Linked DNA regions of Homo sapiens. The protein of the gene in region 1 purifies or fractionates together with the protein of each later gene. This does not show direct contact. Each region holds a gene or a part of one and is shown on either strand. Other genes may lie near its edges. The genes, in order: PTPRR and TRIM11.

Region 1 (17,125 bases):
TAATATATGTATTCATTCATTGAACACTTACTGATGCCATATTAGGTAACAAGCATAGTTCTAGGGAATAAGTATATAGAAATAAAGCTGCAATTGTGTTATTGTTCTCAAAAAACTTCAGTATACAGGTTAAGTACATTGACAGGGGAATATACAGGATTGAAAAGGGAAATGTAGGAGAGCTACTTGAATGAGGTGAGTCATCCAAAAAAAAGAAGATTCTCAAAGTGGGCTATGCCTGATCAACATTTGAAGTTGGAGAAAGAGTCATCTAAAAAAAGGAGCAGAGTATTGGTATTTAAGAGAAATAGAACAGTATGTGAAATGATTCAAGACATGGCAAACCAAAGGAAATTTTGTCTTAGTGTGATATTAGTGTGCAAAGGAGGGCAAGATGAGAAGACCTCATCGCAAAAGACTGCCTTCCTAATGAGTTTGGAGTTTATTCTAAAAGAAAAGGAGATAGCTGTATTAAAGAATTTTTTGGAGAAAGAATATGATCAGGTATGCTTTTAAGAGTTTCACCTCCGACATTATTATAAAGAATAAATTTGATAGGAGGTCATCACAAGATATTATGTGAGAAATAAGGATCTGTCTCAAGGCAGTGACATGATCATGGAGAGTGGAGAACATCTTATGAGAAGAGTTTGAAACCTTTAAGATGAAAGTAGCAAAGGGATGATCTAGGATCAATTATTTGTTTCAGACCTGGGTCATTGTGAAGAATCCTGGTGTTATTCACAATGTTAGGGAATATTTATCAGAGTAATTGTGTTGAGAAGTGTTGAGTAAAAATAGTTGTATATAAGATTATTGTGGGGCCAGGTACTGTGGCTCACACCTGTAATCCCAGCACTCTCTGAGGTTGAGGCAGGAGGACTGCTTGAGCCCAGGAGGTCGAGGCTGCAGGGAGCCATGATTGCACCACTGCACTCAAGCTTGGGCAACAGAGTGAGGCCCTGTCTCTAACAACAACAACAGCAACAACAACAACAACAAAAACAAAAAGATTACTATGGAATATACAATGACTTCTAGGTAATTTTAAATATAGAACCAGAGTTCAGGGGAGATAACTGAGATGGAAATGTGGATTTTGGAATCTTTGACGTGCAAGTCTGAGTATAATTATCCAGGGAGATTGTATACAGAGAAAAATAACAAAAAATCAATGACAAGCTGTAGAGAGCACTAACCATTAAATAATACACAGCAGAAGACCTAAAAGTACAAATTGAGAAATGGCTGGAGAAATAAGAGGGAAGCTAGGAAGTAATGACTGTCTGTGGAAGTCAAGTGAGGAAAAATTTTAAAATTCAGAAAGGGGTCAAAATATATAAGTACTATAGAAATGCATTGATAACAAGAACATACATTACAATAACCTCTTTAATTATGTTCAACCATAGGATGATAGGATGAGGACGGAAGCTGATAGAGAAGTAGGTGAGAAATAAAGAAGAAAAGGCTGAATGTGCATAATGCATCCCAGAATTTTTACAAGGTGTTAGGTAGGATGTGATTTTCAATGGAATATGTGAGGTGCTATTCTATTGGAGGTGCTAGAAATATGTCATCTCCAATATACATATTCCTGTGTCTCTTAAGTACCAAAGAAGCAAATCAGTTTTTTCTAGTGTATTAGACTCTCTGTTTGTAAATCAGCTGATCCCTGTAGCCATTCCTACATGTACAAGGCATTTCACTGAGAAGTGAAAATGTAGCCAATCAGCAAAGAATTTGGGCTGCACAATATCTGGCAATCAGTTTGAAAGACTTTTTTCACTGAGTTGATTAGTAGTTCTGGTCTAACACAAACCCATCCTTTATTGCCCTTCAGTTCACAATGACAGCAAAATCTGTTAGAGATAGTGTGTTTTGGGGGCATGTGAGGCAACATGAGTTTTGGACAAATGAGCTGTTTAAGTCCATTCCAGAAGTGGCTAAGTGGACTATGTGTGTTTTTTGTGGGTGTTAAGAAGATATTAAATGCAAAAAGAAGAGACCAGAAATATCACTGTATTACATTATTTATTTAACTTATTTATTTAATCTTTAGAAAGATTTTATGTCAGGAACTGCCCCCAGGTACTAGGTAGCCCAAGACCTCTAATACATGCAATAATAAACAAAACAGGCAAAAATATGTGCCCTAAATGGGCTTACATTTTAATACAGAGAGGGGAAACTACAATAAAAAAAGTAAAATATATTGTATGTTGGGTGGTGAAGACCTCTGGGGAAAGAAAAGTTAGGCAGGGAAAGGGTGCTAGAATTTTTATCTGGGTGATGGGGGGAAGGGAAAATGAAATATGAAATAGAATAACCTCATTAACAAGGTAATATTTAATTAAAGTTCTAAAATTATTGTGGGATTAAGCTGTGGAGACACCTGGAGAAAGAAAAAAGCAAAACAGTATGAAAGGGTGAGTGCCTGGCATCTTCTAGAAACAGAAGGATAAATATGGCTGGAGAGAGGTAAAAAAAGAAGAAAGTAGTGAGAGATAATATCATAGAAATAATGTGGAGAGAGACTCTAGACCATTGTAAGGTCTATATTGAGTGATTTTCAATAGGAAAAACAAATTCTGGAGTTCTAAGGAACATCTTAAAATCTTAAAATATATCATTTACCTGTTAGTCTATCGTTTCTTTTGAGGGTGGTACTTCTGCAAATCATCTCCCAGATCTTCTTGGCACCATCATAGAATACCTTTCTTCTCAGAGACTAGAGAAATTGACTATGCACTTCTCTGAGAGATTTTCAATAGGAAAAACAAATTCTGGAGTTCTAAGGAACATCTTAAAATCTTAAAATATATCATTTACCTGTTAGTCTATCCTTTCTTTTGAGGGTGGTACTTCTGCAAATCACCTCCCAGATCTTCTTGGTACTATCATAGAATACCTTTCTTCTTAGAGTCTAAGGAAATTGACTATGCACTTCTCTGAGAGTGAAGAGATAGTTTCAGGAGATACATTGAAGGCAGTCTTTGTGCCATTCAAAAAGGCTGATAGCAAGAACAACACAGAAATTTGAAAGAACCTTTTCCAGAACTCAAAGAGAAAGCAATGGATTGAAATCAGTTTCTGTATTTTGTTAGCAAAACATTCCCTAGGAAAAAGAAAGCTTTCACATGAGAATTTTTAATATATCTCAAAAATGTACTCTTTTGCAACTAAAATACAACACTATAAATAATATCTCCTCAAATGGAATATGCTTCTTTGGACAAAGGAAGAGGAGAAATGCTGAAGAAAATAAGCTCTGTGGATCTTCCACATAATATTTTTTTACCATTCGTATTATTGTGGTGGCTTTTAATTGCCTCCTTGAATATTCCTGAAGTGGTATTTTCAACTGGAGTTTATATATTAAACTGGTTCACGAAAGAGTAAAGAATAAGGACAGTTAGGTAAAAAGTATTTTGCACCACTAACTTAATCAATGGTGGCCTCACCTATTGTAGAACCAGTGTATAATTTTATATAGTATGCAACCACGGGTCTGGAAACCTGGGCTTTTATCCCGACTATGCTATTAACTACCACTTTAATACTCTAGATCTTCATTTTCTCACCTGTAAAATAAGCAGTTGGATGGACAATAACCACAACTTCCTTGTTAGGTGATCTATAAAAATCGGCTGCCATGGGTAGAGTAGTGTCCAGCTTCTCTAACAAGAACCATGCTTAGTAATCCTTTAGTGTTAATTTACCCAGAGATGCCACTTACACAGCATGGTACCCACTCCTCATTTTTCTCCCACAGCTATTATAGACCACAGTACTTCTCCCTAGCCAGAATGCGAGTCATAATCTTCTTTTTCCCCCCGATGGTGTCTTAGGCAACCATAAGCAAAATAATGGGAGATGGCACTCAAGTTGCAAGCAGTTTGCTACTTATCATTACAGGCATGGTTATATTGAAGGCAACAGTTCCTAATATAGCTAAAAAGAACACTTACATCCCGTTAGCACATTCCTCCCATCTCTAAAGCATTATAAGGTGTCATCAGTTCCACCAGCATAAAGCAGTTGCTGATACCCTGGGCGTAACCAAAATGGATCAATTAGCTTTACAGTTAAAGAGGCCTGAATGTATAGAATTCATTTCCCTTCTTTATGAAGTCAGCCTCTGTTCTGAGAGAAAAGTCTTCCATAAAAGTAACAAACTCACACCTTCAACAAGTAGAGATTAATATCTTGATTTCTTGATCTTTGTCATCCCATCCACTTATTTTCTTAATCTCCAAATGTATAGAAGCTTAGACCAAGGAGCTGTGTTTGTTTTAGTTCTGATGAAAAGCCCTAACAATGTTATTAGATAACTGTGATAAATTTTAATCTGATGACAGCTTGTGACCCACAAATTGCTGTTTAAAATTAAAATGCATTTAAAATGAAATTGGCAAGAGAACTATAATATTAAACTTACAATCTGCTGTGATAAAACACCAATGTATTTTACTATATTAAATATGAATACAATGAATAGTATCTTGCAATTGAAATATAAAAATGTCCTTAAATGCATTTTCTTATTAAATTAAAATTGGTTGATTAATCTTACTTTTTATCTTTGTTTTGCAAATTAAAAAGTTGAAGTAGAGATGGATTGGATTGGCTTTGGTAATATACCCTTTGGCAGAACTCCAGGTAAAATCTAGGGCTACAGGCTTCTAGGTTTCTCATCTGATGAGCAAAAGTCCTCATTTTTCTCATCCCGAATATTCATCTACAGTAAATCAAGACATGTTTTTCACATGCTTCAGTTTATTTATAACTTTTAAGATATAATTACTCAAGATGTATCAAATGTGATCTTTAAACTTTTTTATATGTTAGTTTTGAAAAAATGACTACACTGATATTGTTGGCAGACCAGCTAAATCATTGCTACCTTAGTAAGAATTGAGATTTTTCTGTAATGAATGTTTGTGTCAGTCTATTATTAAGCAATACTATAAATAAAACTCAACCCAATGTGTATGTTTTCATCCCACATTTCAGCATTGAAGAATTGTATGTGGTAACGAAATAATTCACTACAGCTGTTTGCAAATAATTTAATAATCAAGTCATAGCTATTTTCTACTTCTCAAAATGTGCCAAAGAACTATTGAAAACTCCACAATATAACATCATAATTATAACAATTAACATGTGTATTTAATAATAGCTTTAATAATCCTATGCATTATTTGCTCAAAAGATTCATGATACATTTAAATAATAGCGTTAGCTGGAATAAGAAAGTACCATATTTCACTCCTACTATTGTACACAGAGAATAAAATTCACCCACTCTTTTAAAAAAGATACTGCAAGGATTGTAATTTCAGAACAATTATTTTTACTCATTACCCCTAGAACATAGTATACACTCAGCAAATGTTGCTTGAAGGAATGAATGGATATGTGTGATTGGATGAGAAGCACACTCAGGGAAAATGCCTCGTCTCTGGTTGTTACAGGACTACTGCATGGACAACTGCTGTCACAGTAGGGTTTCTAAAATCTCCCTGCCATATTTTATTTTGGTTCATGTGTGTGTGACAATGATAAGGAATTCAGCCTAGCAAGTCTGTCTGCATTAAATAGAGGTGCTATGTATGCAAAAAGCAGGGACACCACATATAATATCTCTCAGGTACTTCCCAAGGTTTGCTTCCTCACGAGACTTGATATTGATTCTGGTGCCTCAAATCTATTTATATTTGGGAGCAGTCTCACTGTTACTCTTGGTTACACCTTATCAAATCTGTCCGAGGGACAGTGCCTAACCCAGGGTTGTCAGCTTTGGAACTGTAATTGTTTTTTTTTTTTTTTTTTTTTTTTTTTTTTTTAATATGCCAGCGGACGCTAGCCACGGTGCTGAAAGAGACAAGAGGATTCTATTTGAAACCTTTTCTTCCTCTTATTGGCTTAGAAAATTCGAGTGACAAGAGCAGGGGCCAAAGGAGCCTGGTGCAGCATCACTAATGTGAACCATGTATTTCGATCTTTTGGGCGGAGATGTGGTCCATCAGGTTACAGCCAATGCCTTCCTATGAGCGCTCGCTAGACCAAGAGACCTTATGAATGTAGTAGCCGCTGCAGTAGAAAAGGTTACATCTAGCAGGATGTCTTATCCCTCTCCTGAAAAATTGACAGTTAAGTGCATAGCCTAGAAACAAGAGCAGGGAATCTAGACGGAGGGGAGGCGAAGGGGGGAGCAAACCTGTATTCATATTGAAAATGTTCACTATTTTCGTATAAAGTAAAGAAAAATCAAGAGCTAATTTTAGGTTAAGTTTTCGGCCTCAGTTTTCCAACAGGTGCACGACTCCCTCACCCCTTCCCTGTCAGGTACTGTCCTGTTTTACCTTTTTAGAAAGGCTTTCTTCGCAAGGCAAGCTTTTCCTAGAGTCCTTAAGCATGTGCAGTTTCCCATCTCATGCACAGCTCCGGCTCTAAGCCTGGCAACCCCTTACCTGCAGCGTGAAGATTAAGGAGCAGGCACAGCGCAGGGAAGCAGACTGCTCTCCGCATAGTGTTTGCATTGAGAGGTGGAGGAGAAACTCCACCACGACCCCACTTCAGGTAAAGTGCTATTAGAAAGAGCCACCGCCAAGGGTCTTCTAGTCTCCGGGATTCAGGTCCTCGGCTGGGGTTTGCAGAGCAGTCAGTCTGTGGCGCCGACAGAAACCAGCACCAGCTTCAACCTCCCTAAGAGAGGGAGAGAGGAAGAGCAGTAGGAGGTTGCGGGTAAGGGGAACAGAAGCGCTCAGAGGCGGCAAATGCCTGGCCTTCTGGACGCCCAGAAGCCAAGGCGGAGACGGCAGGGTGGACTCCGCGCCAGCCCAGCAGCCCAGCAGCAGCGCCGCGGCTACTGAGCATGCCCAGCGCCGGCCCTCACGAGGCAAGGGAATTTCAAAGTGAAATTCCGCTTCTCCGGGTCTTAGCGGCGGCTTGGAGCAGAGTAGGCTCCATCGCTGGGGTGGTGGTTGGGGGTGGGGGTGGGGGTGGGGAAGGGGGAAGTGCGGGGGAGACACTTGCTGTGGTTACTAGGGACCCAGCGTCCATCACAAATCCGAAGGTGGGGTGTAGCTGAGTGAGAGTAGATGGGGGCACGACCACAGGAGTCAGAGGAGGGAGCTGATGACATTGTCAACCATGCCACCCACCCTACTCTTTCCCCAAATCTTGATTTACACGTGGACCGAGCTCACTGCTGGGAATTGGCATTTGCAGATTGACCAGCTTCCCAGGACTCGCCTACAGGAATAGAGGTGTCTTCCACTGCTGAGCATTCTGGCTGCTCGGGGGAAGCGTTCCCAAGGCAGCTTGCTTGGTGTAAGCAGTAACCATGTATCTTGGGGGTGACTTCGTCCTTCCTACAGCTTCCCCCTCTTTGCTTCTCTTTCCACTCTTTCCAGCTCAATGACTGTATTTAAACTTTCTTCTGACTCAAGTCCTCACAGTGACAGAAAGAAGTGAGAAGATACTTTTAGACTAGTAGAATATATCCATGTAATTGAAGCACAAGAAGGCACCTTTTTGTTTCGTGGAGGTAATTAACTTTAGTTTCCCTTTTACTCTTTAAGGTGAAAGATAATGGATCACGTCAGTGCCTGGACTCATCCGGCCCAGCTCTGTGTCTCTAGGGAGGCTACCACAGTCTGCCATTAGATGGTTTTTTATCCCTCCATCTAAGTCTTTGGAGTGTGGAAAGCCTTATTAGTCATGGCTAATTGCTGCTAGTCAAGTCAAGAAGTCCCTCAGCTAGACTTCTCTTTTAACTATCCCAGGGCCTCTGCCCTTTCTGCCTCTGTGTCTTTATGGACACTGTTGCCTCTTTCCCATTTTCCTCCACTTGCACCACCACCACACTAGTTTTCGAAGGTGTAATGTTGGTCTCACTTTTCCAGAAAGCCCTAACTCTAACTAACTCTAGATTACAGTGATCTTTCTCTTCCACAACACTTGTTTAGCCGTGCCTCATATTATTCTTTCAGACAGTTCATTTATCTGTGGTTTGTTCTACAGCACATTGAAGTCTCCATAAGAACTGCTGAGTTTTGTATTCCATTAACTTGAATAAAGTTGTCCTAGCCAAATAATTGGGGCTAACAAGTGCCCATTGAGTTGAGCTGCACATCTCATTCAGTGCTTTCTTTCTCCATCCTCTGTGAATTGAGACAACTAATGGGAAATAGGCTATCCACCAGAGCTTAAATTAGGTGGGACCTTATAAGATCAGAGAGCCCAGGCGGTACCATTTATTTCTTTTATGATTTATGTCATCTTCAGCTCTGAGAGACAAGGCCAGGAAGCACTCCAACAAGTGGGAGAAGGGGACAATGAGATGTACTTTTAATATCTTGACAGGCCTTCTCTGCTGAAAATAGAGACATATCTCCATGTCTAGCCCCTCTCTAGCAACGTGCTCCACCCCCTACTCCCCCATGCGTGTGGCACACTCCATTTCTGTGGCACTATCATTTCATCCCAAACCACTCTAAGCTGCAACCTCTTCTCCTATTCCTGATTCACTGTCCTCCAGTTTGCTTTTCCCGTATCACTTTCTAACAAACCAAAATAATTACTTATAAAATCTATTGTTTAGTATCTATTTCCCTACTCCCCCCCGCAAAACAGAATTTGAGCTCCAATGTTGAAGAACTTTGATGACTTTATTGATATGTCCCAACTCCCTAGAGCAATGCCTCATGCAAAATAGATACTCAAAAATGAATAAATGAAAATGATAGTTGACAAAGTTCAATACTGACAATTAACTCTTTGAAATTCTTACTGAGTCAACCTTTGAGATAATTTATTTAGCATTCTGTAAAGCTTAGAAGAATAACTCTTCTCATCTAACATCTGTTACTAGAAATGCTGCAGGGCTGGAGGTTAGGGAAAAATAATTGTATCCCACTTACAATAGGTCTATTTTTCTTATTTTCTTGTTTCCTAAAATAACTAATTATCAAACTTACATAGATCTCCAAGAATAAAATATACTTACTTATGGTAATGAAACAATGCTGCAGTAATGTTCTGAACCCCTTCCTTTTCCACAGATAATTCCAACATTTATTGGTGGGGCATTTAAAATTCCCATTATTATAATTGACTATGACTTTGCCAAAAAGCATCCTGCTGGCAATGTATTTTGTTCAGGGCTGCAGGTAGCTGAATTGTTAAACTATGCATGAAAATTCCGTTAGCAGCAAAAATTTCCAATTTCCAATTTGGCTGGATATATCATTAGAATAGTTAGTTCAGCATGGTAAAAATAACCCTGAGTGGGCTGTAATTTTGGTGACTAGACATTCATTATTAATTTACTTAGAAATGATAAAGTAACGAAAAAGGTCATATTCCTATGTGAGTCAATCTAATATCATACTTGTAACGGCTTCAATTCACTTTTTCACTAATTGGCTAATTCACTCATTGCTGTTCGTGAAGTCAAACAGCAATGAATGAATTAGCCAATTAGTGAAAAAGTCAACCACTTAACTCATACAGAAATATTCTGAGTCGATAGGTGCTGTTTTTCCTTAACTGTGATCTAATGCTAGTGAAGGTGACTTGGTGTTTTGGAAAAAAAGCTTGGTTAAAACACTGCATCAGGGTTTTAAAAAGTTAGCTGTAATTCAAAGAAGCATGGAAATTACTATGAGAGAACTATACAAATTAGTAGTGGCCTACAGAGCTATGTCATAAAAGAATCATTTACATTTTACAAGATAAATAAAAAATATCATATGGAATTTTCCTCCACATAAGATGCATAATTTCTTTTTCTTATGAGGTGAGTCTTAGAGAAAATTTATGCAAGAAAGAAGCTTTTCAGAGCCTGCCTTCAAAACAGATTTAATCATTATGAGCATCCATATTTACTTCTCTATAAATGGATGAAAATTATTCATGTCAGCCATCTTTCCTTAAGACACTTTAAATTGAGAAATCAGATCCATTGATTATAAGGATCTCCTACTTAAGTTATTTAGATTACTATTATTTAAGTATAATTATGGCTAACATTGACTGTGCTTCCTGTGTGCCAGGTTCTATTCTAAGCATTTGGATGTCCTATTTAAACATTATAATATTTCTACAAAAGGATACTATAATGATCTCATTTTAGAGATAATATAGTTGAGGCATGGAGAAGTAACTTGCCCAAAATCAAGTAGTAAGTAATCAGTTAAAAAGTAAATTGATAGAATTAAGATGTACATCTGATAATTTGATACCAAACCACTATATTATACTACCTCTAATAACACACACACACACACACACACACAGACACACACACACTCAGTTGTAGGTTGCTCACTAGAATTAGATGATTAGATCAGGGCTGGGCATGAGATGCCTGGCCCCACAGTAAAGCTCTGTGTTGAGGAACACTCATAGAAGACTGTCTCCAGGAGAACAAGAGACACTGCTTGTGGCAGTGGACTCTGGGCCCTAGCATCTAGTGAACAAAGACAGCAAGTAAAATCATGCTTAGAGGAACTGTGTTAGAAAGATGCTTAAGATAGAATGGAGAAGAATGGAGGAAATGATTTCTTCTATGGAGGGTGGGAGCAGAGGAGGGGATGGGCAGCAGGCAAGAAACTGGTGGGCAACAGGAAACGAACTGAGTCTGGCTGGATAAGTAGGTTCTAACTGCTCTACATGAAGAGAAAGGCCAGGGAATTGTGTGAGCCAGTGGCAGAGATATAAAGCAGCAAAATGGATTCAAGGAACTTCTGAACATGTAAGGGAGCAATAGGTAACAGTTATAAACACCTCACTAAGATTTGTTCTGTGCTTGCCCTTTCCCATCCTTTATGCAGCCACTTTATCAATCCCAAAGTCTGTTTCCTTTTGTCTGAGAGCTATCTTTTATAAGAGGAGAAAAGAAGAAAAATAATTTCTTTTTACAAAGTAAATAATTGATGTGAATTAAGCTATATTCAGAGTGGAATATAGCTCAGGATGAAAAGGAATGAATTCAAAATTCACAGATGAAAATACCATGTTCAGGTATATAAATTCACCATTATTATTTTTTAGTATTTTCCCAACCATAACAAGAAGAATGATCTACCCTTTCTCATAAGCATACAGTGAAGAGAACAATGAAATTGCAAGGGGCAATAAGAATAGGGGAGGAAAAGCACTAAAATTCTAAAAATATATATTATCACATTGAAGTCTCACAAGAGCTGTGTGAAGTATTATTTTTTTTTTTTTTTTGTAGTAGAGGAGAAAACTGAAGCTCAGCGAAGCTAGTAATTTGCCTATAGCCATCCAGTTGGTAAGTGGTGAAGCTGGGATTAGAACTCAGGTATGGTGACCCCTAGCACTATGCTGTTATCAGCTGTATTGTACAACATCCCTGCTTAATGACCGAACTTATTTTAATACTTAAATTGAAAACAGTGTTCTTATCCCAAGACACAGACTTCAAGATGGATAACAACAATTACATTTTATAACTTAACACAGTTGTAGTTTTGTTAAATTAAAGCATTTGATACACACACACAAAGGCAGCAATATGTATCCTAAGGAAAAAAATTAGGTACCTAAAACAAGGCAGATATACTTTTCTGTGCATATGTGAATTATGCTATTGTAGTAAAACATAAAATATGAAAAGCAGAAAGGCTATATGTACCTATAGATTCTGCTATTGGTTCATCATTAAAATTTTATTCAAAACGAAGAACAAAGTTTTCTTGGAGCTAGCCCTTGGTACCAATGTATTGTATTGTCATCTATTCTGGCACTGCAAAGGTCAGATTCATCCAAGATGTCAGTAATAGATTTATTTACAAACCTCTGACTCTCCTGCTTTAGCTCTCTGTTTATCCCAAGACACTAATCAGGCTGCACTTATATTATCCATCATCCTGAGCAGCACACAGATGTGACAGCCCTCTGTTATGGCTTAGACTATCTACTTTGAGCATTCAAATACATTTTCTGCAATGGTTGGCCATTCTTTTAGATTTCCTTGAATGAGGCCACTTTGGAACAACTTGTTCACACAATAGCCTGGGACACTAAGTATATCCTGGGATTGTAACTGTGGGTTGATTAGATCATTTAATCTTGCTCTCATTTCTCTACATTATTTTCTCACATAATTACAAGATGATTTAAAAGGACATCTCCCAAATATAGGCCTTAATGTCTCCCTCACTGACTCTTCATTCTTTTTTTTTTTGCATATATATATATCTTTATTATGCCTTAAGTTCTAGGGTACATGTGCACAACGTGCAGGTTTGTTACATATGTATACATGTGCCATGTTGGTGTGCTGCACCCATTAACTCGTCATTTACATTAGGTATATCTCCAATGCTATCCCTCCCTGCTCCCCCTGCCCCACAACAGGCCCCGGTGTTGACTTTTCATTCTTTAAAACTAAAAGTTTAAGGCCGGGCACGGTAGCTCACACCTGTAATCCCAGCACTTTGGGAGGCCAAGGCAGGCAGATCACCTGAGGTCAGGAGTCCAAAACCTGCCCTGGCCTGGCCAACATGGTGAAACCTCGTTTCTATGAAAATTCAAAAATTAGCCAGGCATGATGGTGGATGCCTGTAATCCCAGCTACTCGGGAGGCTGAGGTGGCAGAATCCCTTGAACCTATGAGGTGGAGGTTGCAGTGAGTTGAGATAGCATCATTGAATTCCAGCCTGAGCAACAGAGCAAGACTCCATCTCAAAATAATAATAATAATAATAATAATAATAATAATAATAATATTGAATAAAAGTTTAAACTTTTTAAAAATACTTATTTCTTTCACTCATTCTTGCTGCTGGATGCCTATAATAGAGAATGGGGTGGTTTATTAGTCTATAGTTCGTGGTTGCAAAGCATTTCAGAAGAAATTTTTTTTTCTTGTTAGACACCTGCACCTCTATAACATGAAGAGTTAATCTTACTAAAAATGTCCATTGACTATAACACAACCACTAATACACCCAGACAATGAAGCAGTTGTTTACGGTTTTAAGTTCGACTCATTCATCAGAAACCATATGTGATAGGGCAACACGGGTGCCTATGTTCAGTGAAGTCAAGTCATTTGAAGTCACATTACGGTAGGATATACTATATCGCATACATTCCAAAAACAGTGGAATCATCTGCCGACATTTCGTTGGTATGTTGCTTGATTTCAAATAATTAAACTATATATTGAGTACCTATGATGCATCAGGAAGTATATTAAGTACTTGGGATATATTGTTGAACAAAATAGACTAACATTTTTGCTTTAGCTTAAATTGTAAGTGAAATGTACCTTTAATAGTAAATATAAGAAATAAGTAAATTATATAGTATGATGGAAATTGATGACTGCTATGAGAAACAGAAAAAGTAGATCTAAGTAAGGGGAATTAGGCAGGTGGGGGTGGGGTGGGAGAAGAATATGAGTGCAAGGATTTTGCAGAATTAAGTAGGGTCTTTAAGTGGAGAAAGCGAGCATTGAGAAAGACTTGGAAGTTGAAATTAGCTGAGCAGAAACCTGGTTAAAGAACTTCCTAGGCCGAGGGAATAGCTACAGCAAAGACTCTCATGATTCCATAGATATCTTAACCAATCTGAAAAAAAAACCCCACAGTATCAGAAATAATTTTCAGCATATCTGTAAATATATAAAATATATAAAGAGAAATCCAGTTGGCAAATTGCCAAATTAGTTTAAATGAATATTTTTACACCAGAGATTTTCATTGATTCATGTTTCACTGATTTCAAATACAACTGTGAGATAGCAAAGCCGTTAACAAGATTCAGAAATTGGGACTACCCAAAGCCAACTGATGTACCAACTAAGAATTCTGCTCTTTATTCCATGTTTTTGGTGTAAAATAAACACCTTATTGATTTAGAAATGTGGGTGCCTATTTTGATATTTTATTCATTTTGAGAAACAAAGAAAAACTTTGTGAGCTGCCCTTATACTAAAACCACTAGCAAAAAGTCAAGCTAACATAATATGAATGAGAAATATAAGCAGGAAATGAGACCGGGCGCGGTGGCTCACACCTGTAATCCCAGCGCTTTGGGAGGCAGAGGCGGATGGATCACCTGAGGTCAGGAGTTTGAGACCAGGCTAGCTAACAGGGTGAAACCGTCTCTACTAAAAATACAAAAATTAGCCGGGTGTGGTGGCACATGCCTATAATCCCAGCTACCTGGGAGGCTGAGGCAGGAGAATCGCTTGAATCCAGGAGGCAGAGGTTGCAGTGAGCTGAGATCATACCACTGCACTCCAGCCTTGGTGACAGAGTGAGATTCTGTCTTAAAAAAAAAAAAAAAAAAGAAAAGAAAAAAAATATAAGCAGGAAAAGAATGAGAAAAATGCCCTAGCAAGCATTTTTGTTTTCTCAGCCTCCTGTGTGGCAAATGACATCAGAATATTTGGGTTAGTTATTGTCCAAATGCTGGAGGAAAACAGTTTGACAAATTCCTTGTTTCTTAGGATGGCTTAAGCAAATCATTTTGATACTTTATTATTTTTGGATGAAATAGAAGGTAGCTTCATTTTATTTTTAAGTAAAATTCCTTTTTTATTCAATTTAATGTGATAGGTGCCCATCAAAATACTACCTTACTGTGGCCGGGCGCGGTGGCTCACGCGTGTAATCCCAGCACTTTGGGAGGCCGAGGTGGGAGGATCACGAGGTCAGGAGATCAAGACCATCCTAGCTAACATGGTGAAACCCCATCTGTACTAAAAAAAAATACAAAAAAAAATTAGCCGGGCATGGTGGTGGGCGCCTGTAGTCCTAGCTACTTCGGAGGCTGAGGCAGGAGAATGGGGTGAACCCGGGAGGCGGAGGTTGCAGTGAGCCAAGATCGCGCCACTGCACTCCAGCCCGGGTGACAGAGCGAGACTCCATCTTAAAAACAAAACAAAAACAAACAAACAAAAAAACAAAAAAAACTACCTTACTGTTAATAGAAATAGAAAATATAAACCATTTCTCTTACAAAGGTGTCATTTGGAACCTCTAATCTTGGAAGTACTTTACTTTAGGAAAGATATCTACCCTCAAATTTGTCTTCCAAACTTAAACTAAAATCATATTTTATATTAGGTTTGTATCATAGAGATTAGAAAATGAATTCCTTTCAAAACCAAATTCAGCTCCAAAACTGGAAATAAAATGAAATTTTATTTGAATCAGTCATAAACATAATATATAGAAGCCCAATTTTACCTCACTATTTCTAGAAAGTAGGCAAAAACCAGGATGGTATTTCTGCAGTTTTCCTTCATCTAAATTAATTCTCTTCAGACTGAAATTGAACATTCTAAAGTACAAAATTTTGTAATATTGTGTCTATTGCACAATAGACAATAGAGAAAAAACAAAATAGAATGTGATCTATGGATTCTACCAACTGGTGACAAATACAGCTAATGCTTTGGCATAGCTGGTTTTCCTCTACCCTCATCTTGGGGATATGTGTGTCTTTGCATGCATGTACCTATAATTATTGTTAGTTTTAACATTATTTTTACATCATTGGGATCATGCTATGAATTTGGAAACTATTTCTTTACCTAATAATACTGTGAGACATAATTCCATGTCATTTAAGTTTGTTCACAATCATATTTTTAATTGTTGCAGAGCATCGTGCCATAGCATTCTATCATTGGCTTATTTTTTCAAGCCCTTCCTCAATTAAGGTGAATTGCTTCAGGAGAGCAAGGAAAGACATTCAGATAATGCTCACTTACTGTACAAAATAATGAAAATTATTATATATTTATAATATATTTCCAACATGGCAGTTCTAATCTGGCTCTGGTGAAACTATCACCCCATTAAAAGAAATTATCTAAAGTGTCAAAGCCAGGCATCAAGAAGGGGACATCAGGGATTCTGAGTCATACCTCAATCCCCGGCAAATTAAGGATAATCTAAATGTGTGCCTTCCAATCAGGAACCTGCCTATTTTAAGAATGATGGCTAAAAGCAGAGTTTGAATAAGGAGTCTTCATTTATCTTTTTCATGATCCCTGGATAACTCAATTGACTAACACTGATATAATTACAAAAATACCATTGTGTAAAAAGTACTATAACATGAATTGTATAAAAAAGAGTTATAAGTAATTGTGCTATTTCTTTTATTTTTAAAATTTGTTTATCTTTGCTTCTCATCTTTTTAACTTATTTTTTATTTCTATAGGTTTTTTGGGAACAAGTGGTATTTGGTACATAAGTAATTTCTTTAGTGGTGATTTTTGAGATTTTGGTGCATCCATCACCCAAGCAGTATACACTGAACCCTATTTGCAGTCTTTTATCCTTCACCTCCTTCCTACCGTTTCCCCATGAGTCCCCAAAGTCCACTGTGTCATTCTGATGTCTTTGCATCCCCATACTTTAGCTTCTACATATGAATGAGAAATACTATGTTTGGTTTTCCATTCCTGAATTACTTCACTTAGAATAGTAGGCTCCAATACCATTCAGGTTGCTGCAAATGCAATTAATTCATTTCTTTTTATGGCTGAGTAGTATTCCATCATATATATATATATATATATATATATATATATATATATATATATATACACACACATATATATATATATTTTTCCCCTTTTTTAGGTTTTCTTTTTTGTTTTTAAATTAAAATCTCACTACTGGGTATCTACCAGTAGTGGGAAATATATATATATTATCATATATATGACACATATATAAATATATGATATATATATATGATGGAATTTCCTTTTTATATCTTTTGCCTATTTTCACTGTTTTCGCTTTTCTAGTTAGTTTTTGGAAGTTATATATTCTAGAATTTAGATACTAAACTTTTAATTTCCATTTATGTTGCTAAAATATTCTGTCATTGTATTTTTTGTTTTATTATGTGTTTTGATTAATAGTTCTTAATTTTTTAAATTTATCTATTGACCTTTTGGCTATATATGATCTCTTTGTATCATTTCTTTAGTGGTTGTCCTAGGGAGTGAAATATGCATACCTCTTTCACAGTCTACTTAGAAATATTATTTTTTTACTTTAAGTAAAATGTAGATGACTTACAATTACATCTATATATACATAATTGATTT
Region 2 (9,265 bases), on another chromosome or scaffold:
AGGCCTGGGCGGGTGGGAGGTTTGGGGGACTGCTCCGGGAGTAATCTGTCTCTGTCTAGGGCGGGGAGCTCAGGATGCAGCCTGCTGTGGGCCTGTGAGGGGGGTGTCGCGCAGGGTGGCTGTGGGGGCTCATGACACAGCCTGTTTCAACCAGGCCCCTTGAGGCTGGGACCATGGCCGCCAATGAGACCCTGCTCTCGGGGGTGAGGGGCGTACCTCTCATAGATAGAGGCTAAGAGAGGAAGGTGGAAGGTGGAAGGTGGTGGAGTGGGGGCAAGGAAAATGTGGCCATACCCTGGCCAGCAAGGAGCTGGAATCAGAGGAAAGTGGGAGAACCTCAGAGGTGGCCGATCCTAGATGGACTCCCTGCAGGGACTGTGTTAGCAGGTCAGTACTTAAGTCCTGGGAAAGCCCCAGACTGGGCAGGATGAGGGGGACACAGTCGTTTCCTCTCTAACCTCCCCTCCAGGGCTGCCCTGCATTTCTGGGTGGGGTACTGGGAGCCATCTCTGCCATCTGAGATGCCAGGGCTCAGCCTGCCTTTTCTCCCCTTGTCTTGCTGCTTAAAACCCAAATAAAACCCGAGCTGAAGGGCCTGGGGCACACGTTCCCTGGCCTGCGCTCCCTCCCGCTGTCCTCTTTCCTCGCTGACCTGCTGCAGGTGTGCTCCTGGGAGCCTACGTGTGGGGCAGATGGCAGCATCTTTGGAGCTTTCTTGATTGCACTTTGTGTGTTGCATCATGGTCACTTGTGTGTGCCAGATGAGCAGTTAAGGCAGTGTTAGAATCAGTACTGAGCTTGATCTGTCCCTATCACAGAGCAAACTTCTGGGATACTAGAATAAATCTGAATCTGTCCCCTTCTGCTTTGGATTTTAGCAGAAAGGTGGTTTAGAGCCATATCCGTGGGCTTGTTCAGACACAGATTCATTTGGGTTTTCTTTTCTTTGCCCATGCAGGAATGTCTACACCTGAAACATGTTAGCCCAGCAGAATTACCCTTGTGACACCAATTACCCCAATGGGTGCAGAGAGTGCCCAATAGCTCTATAGAGTTGACTCGATATAGTTTCATGGGATAGCACTTAACCCTTTCTTTTGCAGGTGAAGAAAAAAATTTCCCTCTACCCTGTTAGGTTCAGTGGCTCAGGGCTGCAAATTAAACTGGCACAAGACAAATTAACAGGAAAAAAAATCATACAATTTGATTAATATTTTAAGTTTCACATGCACAAGAACTTCATAGAAAAGCGTATTTCAGCAAAGGTTTGTGAATTGTGGAGAAGTGACTGGACACAGAAATGGGATTGGGCGTCTAGGACTGATAAATTGTGGGAAAGTGACTAGGAAATAGATGGGAAGAATTAACACAAGATAATGGTCATTGTAGTAAGGTCTGTTTAGGCAGAATCATCTCCCAGGATTAGAGTGCCCTCCTCTTCCTGGTAGAGAGAGGGTGCCTTTCTCATGGGGAATGAATACCCTACTTTTAGGCAGATAGGAGTACAGAGAGCTCTTCCTGCATCTGCTTTTACTCAGAATAATTCTTGTACCACAGCGGTATATTTGGGGATGACATCCTGTTCTTCACTGCCTTAGAGCCTAGGTTATGTTAACCACAGCAAACTGCTTTTACCTGCCCCCATGGGCCTAGAAAGCTCAGTCCCACCTATGGGGCTGTGTGTCCACTTGCCAGAGCTGGGGCCCATTAGCTCCATGACAGGTTCACTCCTTGCCTGGCCCTGACCTGGGGTCATGACAGCTGAACAAGCCCCAGGCTGGGTTGCCCCGAGGTGGTAAACAGGGAAGTCCCAGTAAGCTCCAGTTCCAGGAAGCAGCACCATGGGAGAGAGAAGATGGCCCCCAGATCTCTCTGGGTTGTGTGTCAGATGGCACTTGTGTGGGGAGGGGGTTTGCCACAGGAAGGAGGAGGCCAGGGAAGATCCCAGGCCTGCACCAAGCCCCAGCATCCCAGTTCTGACTACACGCAGGGTAAGAGGTTTCTGTTCTGATCTGGCCAGAGACACAAAGATGCAGGTACCTGAAATGCAAGATCTTTGCCATGCTGGGTATGTTGTGCTGCTTTACAGCCCATTCCATCTGATCAAATGCTGTTTGTAACCTTAGTGTTGAAAACTGAAAACGTTGGCCAGGTGTGGTGGCTCACGCCTGTAATCCCAGCAATTTGGGAGGCCGAGGTGGGCGGATCACCTGAGGTCAGGAGTTTGAGACCACCCTGGCCAACATGGTGAAATCCCATCTGTACAAAAAATACAAAAATTAGCTGGGTGTGGTGATGGGCACCTGTAATCCCAGCTACTCAGGGGGCTGAGGCAGAAGAATCACTTGAACACAGGAGGCAGAGGTTGCAGTGAGCCGAGATCGTGCCACTGCACTCCAGCTTGGGGGACAAAGCGAGACTCCGTCTCAAAAAAAGAAAACTGAAAATGTCCCGTAGGGACTGAGGCATTGAGGGAGAAGTGAGAGGCACTGGGCCAAGTGTTTGAGGTGGGGTTGGGGTCACAGGGGCCAGGCCTGAGTTTTCTGGAACAGGTCGGCAGCAGTGAGGAGAGAGGCCTGGGGACAGGGACCGCCATTTGGGGTTCTTGTAGCTCACGTGAGAGCTGAGCCTAGGCAGAGACAGTAAAGCAGTTGGACATGTCCTTGGTGCTCCAGCGGTCTTCCCGAATCGTGAGGCCAAGTGGTGAACTAAAGTGAGCACCTGGAGCCAGGCAGCTGGGCTGAAGTCCTGGCTCTGCTACCGGGGCAGACTTCTGGACCCTCCCAGCACCTCCATCCTTCCAGAGCGTGGATAGCGAGAGATGAGAGCCAAGACTTGGGGTGGCTGAGAAGCAAAGAGGTGTGGCCAGCACAGGGCCCGTTGCTGATAAGGGTGTCAGATGGGGTGGAAGTGAGCAGACCCTTCGAGAAGTGGGTTCAGGGCACCCCAAGCACACACAGTACAGTGAGCTTGTGTACAGGATTTTCACTGCTTCCTGGTATGCACAGCATGAGGAACCGTGGGAATGAGAATTAAGGACCAAGAAAGCAGAATGGAGGTGTACCCATCCTGGAGCTTATTACAGTGATAGCTGATGAAGCTGAAAATGCACAAGGTCCCGAGTGGCTTGGAGAAAAGATAGGGTGGGTAGCCAGGCATGTCTGTCCGTGCTGACTGTCCTACCAAAACACCATGGTTTGCACATGGCAGATGTATACAAGCTGGAGACTCACAGCTCTGGAGGCTGGAAGTCTAAGATCAAGCCCTGGCAGGTTTGGTGTCTGGTGAGGGTGCTTCCTGGTTCACAGACAACACCCTCTCACTGTGTTGTCATATGGTGAAAGGGGCGAGGGTTCCTTTATAACACTAATCCCATTGTGGCGGCACTGCCCTCCTGACCTAGTCACCTCCCAAAGCCCCCGCCTCCTAACATCATCACACTGGGTGTTGGGATTTCAACCTATGAATTTGTGGGGGCATAGGGCAGAATTTTTGGACCCCAGCATAGGCTTGGTCCAAGGCCCTTATGTGAGCCAGCAGGTGAGAAGGAAGAGGAGGAGGAGTAGACACTGGCTTGGGAACAGGAGAGCTCAGCACCTTCAGAGCCAGCTTGGGGACAGATGGGGTGGGCAGCCAGAACCCTTGAGGTAGCTTTGCAAAGGGGGGTGAGGCCTGGGCTAGGGTAGCAAGGTCGAGGACTAGAAATGCCCCATATGAGAAAAAGGAAAGAATGTGGCTGGGGCTGTCAGCCTCTGGCAAGAGGCTGCCCACCTACCATGAGGGCTCACGCTTATTGGAGGGCATTGAGTTCCCTGATTCACCAGGCAGATTTCAGTTTGTCCCCATTGTCTTTGAGGAGGGGACAGGGTGTCAGGTGCAAAAGGGCAGGCTTCTGTGACAGGACTCATGTCTCATGGTCCTGCCTGGCCTCTCCCGCAGGCGAAGCTGGAGAAGTCACTGGAGCATCTCCGGAAGCAGATGCAGGATGCGTTGCTGTTCCAAGCCCAGGCGGATGAGACCTGCGTCTTGTGGCAGGCAGGTGCTGGGGCTCCCAGGGTCCTGGGTGGCAGGGTAGGGGGTGAAGGTCCTGTATAGGAGACCCCAGGGGGCGATGCTGGCCAGGCACACTTGCCCTTGGCGCCCCAGGACCAGTCACTGCTTCAGCCTGGCCCCACCGAGCCCACTGAAGGGCTGGTCCTTTCCCACGTGCACCTGTCCTGCCAGGTCGTGGGCGTGGGCTCCCATACTGCAAGGGCCCCATCCTGGGGTCCCAGCATGCTTGGGTGGCAACTCTCAGGTGTATTTAGGGTCTGGGCCCTGGAGGTAAATTTGGAGGTTTTGAGGGACTAGGTCATAGATGTGGGATTCAGCCATCCTGAGGAGTAGATTTGGGATCTGTCCAGTTCTGGGGTAGATTTGGGGTCTGGGAGGCTCTGGGTGGTGGATTTGGGATCTGGGAAGCCCCAGGGGAGAATTTGGAGGTCAGGAGGGACCCTGGGTGGTAGATTTGTAGTCCAGCTGGCCCCAGGTGGTAGATGCAGGGTTCTACCAAGCCAATGGGTGGATTTGGAAGTTGGGGAGGGACTAGATAGTGGATTTGGGATCTAGTCGGCCCTGGGTTTAGATTTGGGGTCTAGCCAGTCCTGTGTGGTAGAATGGGATTTGGCTCTCCCTGAGTGGTGGATTTGGGGTTTGGGAGGTGCCACAGGTGGGTTTGGGGTCTGGCCAGCACCAGGTGGTGGGTTTGGGGTCCTGCCACACCTGGTGCTGTGCTTTGGCTTTAGCAGGCCCCGGGGGTGGGGTTGGGTGCAGCCAGGCCTCTGGGTGGGCTTGGGGTCTGACCAAACTTGGGGTCTGGCTGGGCCTGGGGTCTGGCCTCAGCTGTCCTTCTCCCTGGGCTCCACAGAAGATGGTGGAGAGCCAGCGGCAGAACGTGCTGGGTGAGTTCGAGCGTCTTCGCCGTTTGCTGGCAGAGGAGGAGCAGCAGCTGCTGCAGAGGCTGGAGGAGGAGGAGCTGGAGGTGCTGCCCCGGCTGCGGGAGGGCGCAGCCCACCTAGGCCAGCAGAGCGCCCACCTAGCTGAGCTCATCGCCGAGCTCGAGGGCCGCTGCCAGCTGCCTGCTCTGGGGCTGCTGCAGGTGAGCTGGGCGGGGAGCAGCCATGGTGGCCACACGGGCATGGCCTGGCCACACTGGGGGAGGGAGAACCAGAAAGTGCAAGAAGCAGGGGCAGAGAGGTTGTCTGGGCTGAGAGGTGAATGGCATGGCTGGATGTGCCTGGCTGTTGCCTGTGAAATGCTGAGTCAGCAGCAGGACAGATGTCCCACCCCCAAAACCCACGTGCCGAGAAAGGGAAAATCAATTTTCCTCTGTAGATGTAAACAGTTGATGTTTCTTAAGTGATTACATAAGGTCACTCCATCTCGTCCTGACTGACACTGCTGCTCCCTGTGGGCACAGCAGAGTGGGCATGTGCTCGCTGGGACCACCTTGGGCCTCCCATAGGATTCCTGCCATGGTGTCCCCAGCAGGAAGTCCTCGCCCTTCACTCTGTCTTCACCCCGCTGGCACACCCCATGCATCTCCATTATGGGGGGCAGTCTCCTCCTCCTCTGCTTCCAGGAGAGTCTTTTCCCATGTGTGGGCTCCACTCCCTGAGCCGGCCCCCTGGGCCTGGGCTTTCCTTGGTGCACCCCCAAACCAGAACCAGTGGACGCCCTGGCCTGTGGCCTGGCGGCAGGTCAGGGGGCCTGGAGTCAGCTCTCTCCGCTTGGCAAGCGTGCACTGATGAGGACTGACGGCACTCCCATGCTGAGAGGCCCCGTGTGGGCTGGGAGTGTCTGCTATCATCTTCCCGTGGGGTTCAGCTGGATGTTTTTCCCACAAAATGGAGAACGTGTTCCATGCCCAGCATGGTGTAGACTCAAGGGGCCCCAAGATTCAGAGGGAAATGGGCCCCTGGGCAATTCTGGCTCCCACAGAGGAGAGAGGCCGTGTGTGAGTGAATTCAGCCACTGGTGGGGCAGGGCTGCCAGACCCAGGTGGAGCCCACAATGCTGCAGATGTGGCTGGGCGGCTTTGCACAGGGGGTGACCTGCTGCCGGCCTCTGGAGCCCAGCAGAACATCAGTCCAGGCACCGGCTCCTGGTTTCGATTGTCATTTCTATTGTAAGCTTTTTTCTGTTTTTTTGTTTTTTGTTTTTTTTTTTTTGTTTTTTTTTTTGTAGATTTAAGGGGTACAAGTGCAGTCAGAGTGTAGCCATCACCCGAATGGTGCACACTGTACCCAGTAGGTAGTTTCCCCCACCTCCAAGTCTGCAGCATCTGCTCCTCCACTCCGTGTGCCGCGTGCACCAGCTTGGACATCAGCTGGCTTTGAGCCTGGGAAGCGGGAAGGACGCTCGGCTAGCGTCTGTAGAAAGACTGAGGAATATTAGGAGAGGGTCCTGTGGTCAGTAAATTGTGGGGTGGGGAGGTACCCAGAAGACTGAGGAGGAGCCCTCAGGGAGGGCAGAGAGGACAGGTGTTGGAGAAGCCAGGAAGGGTTTAGAAGGAAGGTGAGTTGACCTGGAAATGGGGACCCACAGGGTTTGTGTGAAGATGCAATTTGGGCTTTCAGCTGAGACATTGTGGCATGTGGGCGGGTGGGTGGGTGTTGGGTCTCATACACCCACCTGCATTCACCCCGCTGAGTGGCCCACCCGTCCATGCCTTGGCCAAGCTCCCTGCCCAGGTTTGGCCTGGCTACAAGGCTTCAGGGAGGTCCCTCCTGTCCCCCCAACCTGCCAGCACATGGCCTGCATGCTGTGGGGGTCTGCCCACATGGGGGTTGCAGGAGAGCAGCCTCAGCAGCTCTGTGTTGATGTGAGCTGTGTGCTGGTTTGAGAGGGACAGGTGGGGATGGCTTTGCACCCTTGGCCCCCGGTTGGGTAGGGGAACCCAACCCGGGTTCCCAGCACCCAGGCCGAATGGACAGGGGTTGCACAGTGGAGGTAAAGGCTTGAGTGACTCCCAGGAATCCACCCACTGGGGCTCTGGCTGCTGTGGACTCTGGGGCCCTGGCTGCTATGGACTCTGGGGTCCTGGCTGCCCCCTTCAGCAGGCCCTGCTTGTAGCCGCAGAGTGGTTTTGTTCAAGTCAATGCTGCCCCTGGAGGGCCCGTGTTCTGTGCAGAGACCAAACCCCCTTGTCGAGGCCAAGGTTCTCCTCTACCCCCAAGCCCTTCTCCTGCCGCCCCTGCACCCGGCCTTGTGACAGCCACCACCTGTTTCCAAATGACACCAGGGGTGGGCCGCCCACCCCAGGTAGAATAACCAAGGTGGAGCTGCTCCCAGCTGCCTTGCTCACACCAGCACCATCTGCCCCTGCCCTGTGCACACCCCTCCCTCACCCTGCGCACTCCCCCTGTGTCTACCAACAAATTCTTCTTGGGCTTCAGAACCCTACCAAGAGTCTCCTCTTTATTTATTTATTTATGAATTATTTATTGAGACAGGGTCTCACTCTGTCGCCCAGGCTAGAGTACAGTGATGTGATTATGACTGCAGCCTCGATGTCCTGGGCTGAAGCGATCCTTCCATCTCAGTCCCCTGAGTAGGTGGGACTGTAGGCACACACCACCAAGCTCAGCTAATTTTAAAATTTTTTTTTAGAGATGGGACCTTGCTGTGTTGCCCAGGCTGGTCTTGAACTCCTGGACTCAAGTGATCTGCCTGCCTTGGCCTCCCAAAGTGCTGGCCTCCTTTTTAAAAAATTTTTGGGGCCTAGAGTGTGTTGTTGTCCCCCTAGACAGAATTAACTACCCGTATGTGTGGAAATCTTCCTTTGCCATTTCTCCTACATGTAGGGAAACCCTTGTCTGGGATTATGTCTTACTGACCTCTGCATCCTGGCCTGGTAGCTGGCACCACGTGTGTTAGAATGAACATGGTGTGGGATCGTCTATTTGACAGTGTGGGTTAAATCCTTGCAGTGCACTGAAGACTGCTCTAAGAGATACAAGACCGTGTCTCCTAAGAGCTGATGTTCCAATACCTGGGTGTATCACGCCAGCTCGGGCTGCCACATTTAGTACCACCTGCCAGGAGGCTTCCCCAGCAGAGACTGATTGTCTCCCAGTCCTGCACACTGGAAGACTGAGGTCAAAGCTGGTTCCCCCTGAGGCCTATCTCTTGGGCCTGTAGATGCCTTTTCTTCCCTGTATCCTCACAGGGTCTCCCCTCTGTGGGTGTCTGTGTCCTAGTCGCCCCTTCTTATGAGACTCAAGTTATTTTGGATTGCAGCCCACCCTAATGGCCTCATTTTACTATGATTTCCTCTTTAAAAGCCCTTTTTTCTAATAGTCAAGTTCTGAAGTCCTGAAGTTTCTGGCTTCAACATACGGATTTGGCGGGATGGACACAATTCGGGCCCTAACATGGAGTCAGATGCTATCACGTATCAGGCAGTGACACAGGAAGGACGCACGCCCAAGAGTGGGGCTGAGCAGGGAGCCTGCAGGGCAGGTGGAGCTGGGAGAGGAAGCAGTGCAACCACAGGGTTGGGCTCCAGCTGGGGTGGAGGTGCCCCTATGCTGAAGGCTGGGATGTGTGCCTGTCCTGTCCTTGGCACCCAGAGGCGCCCACTTGGGGCTCTGGGTGAGTGAGCCAACAGCCAGATGCCCTACATCCAAGTGTCAGGCAGAAGTGGGCCTTGGTCCGCAGGGCTGGGCTGCACCCCATTGGTGATGCCTCCTGGCACACATGTCAGAGCCTCTGTCCAGCATTCCTGTGTCTGAGCCTTGCTGCGGGTGGTTTATGGCCCCCTGTGTGTGTTTTTGCTGCCTGACGCTCAAATGTAGGAGAGGGGGACGGGGCGAGGCTCCAGGGGCGGGGAGGGGACTCCAGGAGCAAGCGATGGTCACTGACACCGAGTGTGCTGTTTCTCCTCCCCACATAGGACATCAAGGACGCCCTGCGCAGGTACGAACCCAGCCTCTCCTGGAGGGGGGGCAGGAGGGAGTGGGGTGGGACCCAGCTGTTGGCCATGGCGACAACACCTGGGTTGTCCCCTCTAGGGTCCAGGATGTGAAGCTGCAGCCCCCAGAAGTTGTGCCTATGGAGCTGAGGACCGTGTGCAGGGTCCCGGGACTGGTAGAGACACTGCGGAGGTTTCGAGGTAGGTGTGGAGGCCCCAGGTGGGGAGATGACTCCAGGAGGGGACCTGCCAAGGACCTGGGCAGCCAGCCACGTGTTCTGTGCCCTGCCACTGCCAGCTCCAAACTCACAG

The links.
Region 2: the proteins of PTPRR (region 1) and TRIM11 purify together in Homo sapiens (affinity purification with mass spectrometry; 2 studies listed by BioGRID and IntAct, with this or other methods). This does not show direct contact.

Annotation. Positions count from the first base shown.
Region 1 is NC_000012.12:70,913,854-70,930,978, forward strand, and holds the start of PTPRR (receptor-type tyrosine-protein phosphatase R isoform 1 precursor), read right to left. Parts: upstream 6,886-17,125; 5' UTR 6,538-6,885; coding exon 6,480-6,537; intron 1-6,479. UniProt on the Homo sapiens protein: Sequesters mitogen-activated protein kinases (MAPKs) such as MAPK1, MAPK3 and MAPK14 in the cytoplasm in an inactive form.
Region 2 is NC_000001.11:228,396,836-228,406,100, reverse strand, and holds part of TRIM11 (E3 ubiquitin-protein ligase TRIM11), read left to right. Parts: intron 1-3,939; coding exon 3,940-4,035; intron 4,036-4,906; coding exon 4,907-5,137; intron 5,138-8,935; coding exon 8,936-8,958; intron 8,959-8,991; exon of another isoform or gene 8,992-9,053; coding exon 9,054-9,154; exon of another isoform or gene 9,155-9,265.